2 linked regions of the Homo sapiens genome follow. The protein of the gene in region 2 purifies or fractionates together with the protein of the main gene of each other region. This does not show direct contact. Each region holds a gene or a part of one and is shown on either strand. Other genes may lie near its edges.

What was found. The genes of interacting proteins can lie anywhere in the genome.
Region 1: the proteins of HOXB3 (region 2) and FBLN5 purify together in Homo sapiens (affinity purification with mass spectrometry; one large-scale study listed by BioGRID and IntAct). This does not show direct contact.

What each region holds. Positions count from the first base shown.
Region 1 is NC_000014.9:91,930,695-91,934,194, forward strand, and holds part of FBLN5 (fibulin-5 isoform 1 precursor), read right to left. Parts: intron 1-3,500. UniProt on the Homo sapiens protein: Essential for elastic fiber formation, is involved in the assembly of continuous elastin (ELN) polymer and promotes the interaction of microfibrils and ELN. Stabilizes and organizes elastic fibers in the skin, lung and vasculature.
Region 2 is NC_000017.11:48,555,742-48,559,241, forward strand, and holds part of HOXB3 (homeobox protein Hox-B3), read right to left. Parts: intron 3,326-3,500; exon of another isoform or gene 1-3,325. UniProt on the Homo sapiens protein: Sequence-specific transcription factor which is part of a developmental regulatory system that provides cells with specific positional identities on the anterior-posterior axis.

The DNA.
Region 1 (3,500 bases), on a different chromosome or scaffold from region 2:
CAGCATTAGGGGCTGAGGTTCCTACTTGCCCCGGCCTTTATGCCACATTTGTTCCCACTTCCCACTTTTCTGTCTCACAATTTAAATAATCCCAGGTTCTGCTGCCATTTCCAAGCAGATTCCGAGTGAAGCCACATCAGGCTTAGCTGGGGAAAGCCGTTCGAGGCCTGCAAGGTAAATGTGTACTAGGCTCAGTTTTAGGTCATTTTAAAGGTTTTGAAGAATTAGACGTTTGATGCATTTTCAGACTCTGTGACTCTTCCCCTGGGTTATCATCTCAAGACCCTAGCAGCCTTCTCCACAAATCTTTCCCAGTTAACGTTTACTATGGGATACTCTGCGTAAACACTGGGCAAGGTGTTTGCACATGTTATCTGTGAGACAGGCATTGTTATATCCATTTTACAGATGAGGAAACCAACCCCCGTCCTCACAGGTAGGAAGTGGCCAAACCAAGGTGAGACTCAAAGCCTGTCTGACTTCCCAGTTCCAGTCCCCTCCACCCCAGAAGGCTTCTTATCTCTGCCTTCTTTTTATACCATCTCAGGAACTCATCAGAGGCCGTCTTGAATTTCAGCTGCTTGTGCTTGTGTTGCGTTTAATCTCCCTTCCTTGTCCACAAGCTCTAGAGAGAGCTCCGTGGCCATGCAAAACTCCACATCCCCCTCGGTGCCTAGGCCAGAGCCTGGCACCAACAAAGCACTCTGTACACATTGGTTGACTGAAGAAGTACTGGCTGGCTTTCAGGAAAAATAACTCAAGAGAAAGCCTCAGACCAACACCACCCACCTTCCAAAAGGATTCCATGTGTTGCTCTCTGCCTGTTCTCAGATCAATAACAATAACAAAAATCCTGGACTAGAAGAGAGAATCAAGATATTGCTTGTAATTTCACAAATGGCCGGAATTTCTGCAGTCCCCGGAGTAGCAGGGCTCTAGTAAAAGGCTGCTTTCTCAGCCGCAAAATATTTCACAAACATGAGTTACTGATGGAGTCTCTACATTTGCCACTGAGCCAAGCTGGTTAGCAAAGCTAGAACTTGGAATGTCCACCCAGAGAGATGACAAGTTGAGCCCCCAAGGGAATGAGTTGACAGAGTTGAGTGGCGGCCACGTTCAGGGACCCGGTCTTAGAGGCAGCGTGCCATGAGAGGAAGGTTCCTGAATGGGAGTCCACATCTTGGGTGCCCCAGCCACTCGGCACCAGCTCACCCCACCCCCTGAGGCTTCAGCACCACACCATCCTCAGCCCCACACCGTCCTTCTCTGGGATGTCTATGTGGCCAGCTCAGAACTCTACGTATGTGTTTGATTTGGCCTCTGTCTGGGTCTTGATTGTGAGCTGTTGGGTGAGGCTCTCCTTCAGCAGCCCCTCCCTGCTTACCCGTTAACCATGTCTGTCTGGCTCTCCCTCCCCTGAGAATCTGGTCACCAGATCTCCCAAGGGTCCAGGATCTGGGTGACACACTCTAATGAGCCATGAGTCCCATCACTGTCATGCCAAGATGCCAGTTTTCTGAACAACACAAAACTTGCTTGGCTCGTGGACTATAATTCCTAGGTCACTGTTCACTGTGTCTGCAGAAATGTCCCAAGTGCACACCTAGGGGCCTGTGGACTCAAACCTAAGGCCAAACATTGTTCCAAAAGGACAGGGTCTAGTCACCTCCAAAGTGGAACCAAAAAGAGAAAAATTGAGGAGGAAGCTCTGAGGGACTGGCCACCCAGGTGCTGAGCCCGGCCCCGCCCAGCCCATGGAAACAGCATGGCTTCATGCGGCACCAAGGGATGAAGTGCTTCCTTGAAAGTGGGTCCAAACCCTAGAAAAAGTAAACCGCCGTGAAAGGGGATGCTCATTTGCCTCCCCAAGGCAGACTGTCTTACACTTTGAGAAGAAATCAGTGCATGAAGAGGGCAAAAGATCAAAGATGCTACCTGCAAAATAGCCTGCCCAAAAATTTAACCTGAATTGGATCAAGTCCCTAGATCTATGAGCAGCTTACAAGAAAATATAGGGGACGAAGGAATAAGATAACCCGCGCCCCGGCAAGAGTGCAATCAGCCACCTCCGAAACGTATGAAATTCTACAGAACAAGCAGCTCAGCCTCTTCAACAAATAAGTGGCCAGGGAAACAGTAAAGACTAAAAGACATTTAAGAGACTTGTCAACCAATGCAATTTGCAGAATTTGCATGGATCTGATTTCAACAAACCAACAGACAACAGGCTGCTGAGATGGCTTCGTATGCATGGCCCCTTTGGGGCTCAGCTTGTCATCCCTCTGGGTGGATATTCCAAGTTCTGGCTTTGCTAACCAACTTGGCTCAGTGGCAAATGTAGGGACTCCAATAACTAATGTTAGTGAAATGTTTTGTGGCTGAGAAAGCAGGATTTTGTTAGAGCCATGCTACTCCGGGGACTGCAGGGATTCTTCTGGCCATTTGTGATGAAATTGCAAGGCATTTATGAGACAATCAGAGAGATTTGAACACTACCTGGATATTTAATGATAAAAAGAGATTATTATTGACTTCTGTAGGTTTGATAATGGTATTGTGCTTTTTGGAAGTTTTTTTATTTTAATTTTTTATTTTTTTGAGGCAGAGTCTTGCTCTGTCGCCCAGGCTGGAGTGTAGTGGCACGAGCTCGGCTCACTGCAACCTCCACCTCCTGGGTTCAAGCAATTCTCCTGCCTCAGCCTCCCGAGTAGCTGGGAAAACAGGTGCATACCACCACACCCAACTAATTTTTGTATTTTTAGGGGGTTTCATCATGTTGGCCAGGCTGGTCTCGAACTCCTGACCTCAGGTGATCCACCCACCTCGGCCTCCCAAAGTGCTGGGATTACAGGCATGAGCCACCGTGCCTGGCCTTAAATTTGTTTTTGTAAAGAATTTCTTTATCTCTTAGAGATAATTCTGAAGTCTTTAAGAATGAAATTATATGATGTCTGGGATTTGCTTTAAATTAATGCACTGAGTAGAGTGTAAAGAAGAAAGGAGATTGTGCCCGTGCTGATAACTACAGAAGTTGGGTGATAAGTAGGTAGGTGCTTACTATGCTCTTTCTACTTTTGACTAGGTTCAAAATTTTACAGAGCAAAAAGTTTCATTATGAAAAAAAAAGAGAGATAGCTGGGTGCCACGGCTCACACCTATAATCCCAGCATTGTGGGAGGCCGAGGCATGAGGATTGCTTGAGCCCAGGAATTTGAGACCAGCCTGGGCAACATGGCAAAACCCTGTCTCTACCAAAAAAATACAAAAATAAGCCAGGCATGGTGGCACATGCCTGTAGTCCCAGCTACTTGGGAGGCTGAAATGAGAGGATCACTTGAGCCCAGGAGGCAGAGGTTGCAGTGATCGAGGATCATGGTGGCACATGCCTGTAGTCCCAGCTACTTGGGAGGCTGAAATGGGAGGATCGCTTGAGCCAAGGAGGCAGAGGTTGCAGTGATTGTGCCACTGCACTACAGCCTGGGTAACAGCCAGACCCTGTC
Region 2 (3,500 bases):
CGGCGTCCGCTTCAATTCACTCGGCTTAGGAGCAGGGGTGCGCAGGAGGGAGGGGGTGGGGGAGCGGGAAAAAAAATAGAAGACCGAAAGGTGCCGGGCGGCTCAGCTCGCCAGAATCCAGCTCCGGGCTCCAGCAGGGCTAAGCCGCCACAGTGTGGTTGCCCTATAAGACTGGTACGCCCTACTCTCCGTAACAATGGCCTCTGCTTTTGCACAGGGAAAAAAAACCACACAGACACACACACACACTCACTCACACACAAGCTCACACCCCCCCACCTCTCCCCCTTTAGCAAGCTTAGATGCCTGATAAGGAGGGAAGGTGATGGTGGTGATGGGGAAGGGGGGAAATTTTAAAATACCCGCCTCCCCAAAAAAAGAGTAAGAAGAAAAGAAGGAGGGTTTTTTTTTTTTCCTTAAAGAACAGGTAAAAATTTAAATCTAGATTGGAGGGACAGGGAGGAAGAGGTGAGCAAAGGCAAGGAAGGGCGGTGAAGTTCACAGCTCCCCCCATACCCCACTAGTGAACTATTATGCTAATATGAGAAGTAGTATTTGGAGGCTGAGTCAAAGGCAGGCCTGGCCCGGGGGTGAGGGTGCCGGGTGCCCCTCTGCACTCATTCGCAATTGGAACACCAGGACTTTTTTAGAAAGTAGTTCTGGGTCTCCAACCCTCACACTCTGGCTCCCTCCTTCTGAGTCTCCAGCCCCGGCTTCTTCCCTCCACTACACCCTCTCTATTCCTCCCAAATCTCCCTCCAGTCTCCAGGCCCAGTCTCTAACCAAGGGAGAGGGAAAGACCAGAACTTAAAAAAAAAAAAAAAAAAAAAACACCCCTCCCCCTTTTTCTTTTTGAGAACAGACAACAAGCGGTGAGTGATGATTTTAAAAACTCTGAACATCTTGCAGGGGGAGGAGGGTTGAGAAAAGGGTGACAAAAGGAGGACTCTGTGTTTTAGTTTGAGCTCCAGACTGGCTGGCAGTAGACGGGCTGAAAGAACTTCATGGATAAGTTTCTGTTATGATTCTCACCTCCGAATAGGCAGAAGGGGCTAAGAGGTGATAAGGACATTTGTACTTCTAAGAAGAGAAGAACTAGCAGGGTCGCTTAATTTTAAATGCACTGGCAGAAGAGATGGAAGATGGTTATTATTATTATTCAGAACAACCCTGTTTGTTTCTCTCTGCCCTGCAAGATTTATGACTCTTGGCACAAGTGAGGAAGGCCACAAAAGCTAAAGTTTTCTTAGGGTGTGTTTGAGCAGGGCAGGAAAAGGCAAGGAGGAGGCCTGTAGGAGGAAGACAGGAGCCAAAAATGTAGGTGTCTGCAGATTTGGGACAGGGGGTGGGGAATAGTCATTCCGGGAGGAAGGAAAAGACAAAAAGAGCACCAGGACATTTCCCAAAGCAGGAGTGTTTGCAACTCTGCCTAACTGCTGACTCGGAGCTAGGGGATGAAATAGAAAGCTGACTCTTTTCTCTAAAGGCAGCTTGGAAAACTGGTCCTCTTAACTTCATGTAAGGCACTACCCTGTGATTTCCTGGTTAGAATACTTGGCTTTTGCCTTCTCCCATCTGGATGCACCAGAAGAGGGAACGGGACTGGGGACAACAAAGGTGAGAGTTGATTTCCAGCTTTTGTGTTCCCTCCAGCATAGGTTGGAGGTGTCTGGCAAAGCTTCCCTCATTCCCTCTCTCTCCCCACTCACAGGCTCTACTTTGGGATGAGATAGGGAGTGGCCCCTGGCCTCCAGCCCCTACTTCTTCCAGGCAAGGCTAAGTCAGGCCAGGTGATTTGGAGCAGCCGGTTTCCAGGGGCCCTGATAAACTGGGGGTACCTATGGCCTTCCTGCCCTCCAGCAACAGAAGCCACTTGCAGAGCCTCAGAATGTAATGTCCTGAGGACCCCACCTCCCACCTAGAAAGTTGACAGCTGGGGGGAAGCACGGGTTGGGGGACATGGGGATGGAGGGTGGGAGCTATTTTTCTGTGTTTATTAGCTATTATTCTGTGTTTATTAGTATTTTTCTGTGTTTATTAGTAGTATCAAGAAAATAAAACATCCAAGTCAGACCTAGACTTGGGGCTCAAGCCAGCCTGGAACCCCAAAGAGACCTGTTAGGGGTGCCTGAGCATGTGGCTGCAAAAAGTCTGTCCTGAGATCTCTACACTCTGGTTAGAGACCTACAGGGTCAGACCCCATGTAACTTTGAGCTTGGTGGGTCAGGGACTCAGGCCAGGGAGGCTTCCAGAGGCTTAAAGAAACCAGTACCTTTGGGGTTTTTTTTTCTATCACTCCCCCAAATAAAAAAAAAGCCAAGAATGTACCTCAAAACCTCTGCTGTCCTAGCTGTTACTATCATTGGGTTAGAGAAGGTCATTGTAAAACTGAGAGAAGAGGAGAACCTGATCGCTTTTGGGACTGCGCAGCTTTGCCTCTAGGAATAACACGAGAGTCCAGAAGGCACCCAGGCAGCCTCGGGCCGGCTGCAGGAGAAGCGGGCCTGGAGCTGAGCTGGGAGTGGAGGAGTGTTCCAGAGACAACAGCAGACCCCTCCCTTCCCCAAGCCTCCTCAACTCTTTGTGGTCCCTCGGGCTACAGAAGGCAGTGGGGCATAGTGGGGTGGGAGTGAAAAAGAGGACCGAGAAGCAAGAAAATGAACCTGGAGAAAATCTCAGAGGACATATACCCCCAAATGCGGTAGGAGATGGAGTGGGGGCTTCTTAATTCTGGAGTACAGAGCCCATTTGGAATACTTGGGAGGCAATTAGATCCCAGTTTAGTTTCTGTCTTGCCTTTTTTCTTCCATTCTCAGAGGTCTCTGGCGAGCAGGCGGGCTGCCCTCTGATTAGGGCTGGGAGGCTGGAGGACGGAGGGTGGAACAGGCACCCCTAAGGGCCCCTGTTTGGACTGAGGTGTTGCTGCTAGCCAGGGGATTTTCAAACTTCAGGGGATAAAGGCTGGTAGTGAGGAGTTTGAGCAGGGAACTTGGGGTGGGGGACGCCAGAGCAGGCTGAGGGAAGACTTTGGGGTCTGGGAAAAGAGAAGCAGGAGAAGGGCTTATCATCCCTGAGAGTGAAGCCATGATTTCGGAACAGACTGGAGATACAGAAGAGGGAACAATTTCTTCTTGGATTTGGGAGGGAAACCTGGAAAACTGTGTGTGTGTGCCCATGTGTGTAGGGTGTGTGTGTGTGTGAGAGAGAGAGAGAGAGAAAGGAGGAGAAAGAGAAATTGAAAAAGAGGAAAATTGAGTAAGAGACAGAGACACTAGCATAAACTAATGAAGTAAAAAAATAATAAGGGTAAAGATTAGAGAAAATGCCCTTCTTCACAGACATCTTTTCCTCTTCCATTCCGTTTCTTCAGAGCCAGAGCACTCGCTCTGGCACTTCTCTCCCCCACCCCACTGGGTACCCAGTATCAGGCGACGGGAGCACTTTAAACCCTCTGGAACAATCAAGGGCTACCCGCCCTTCTAGACCTCGGCGGCGGGATC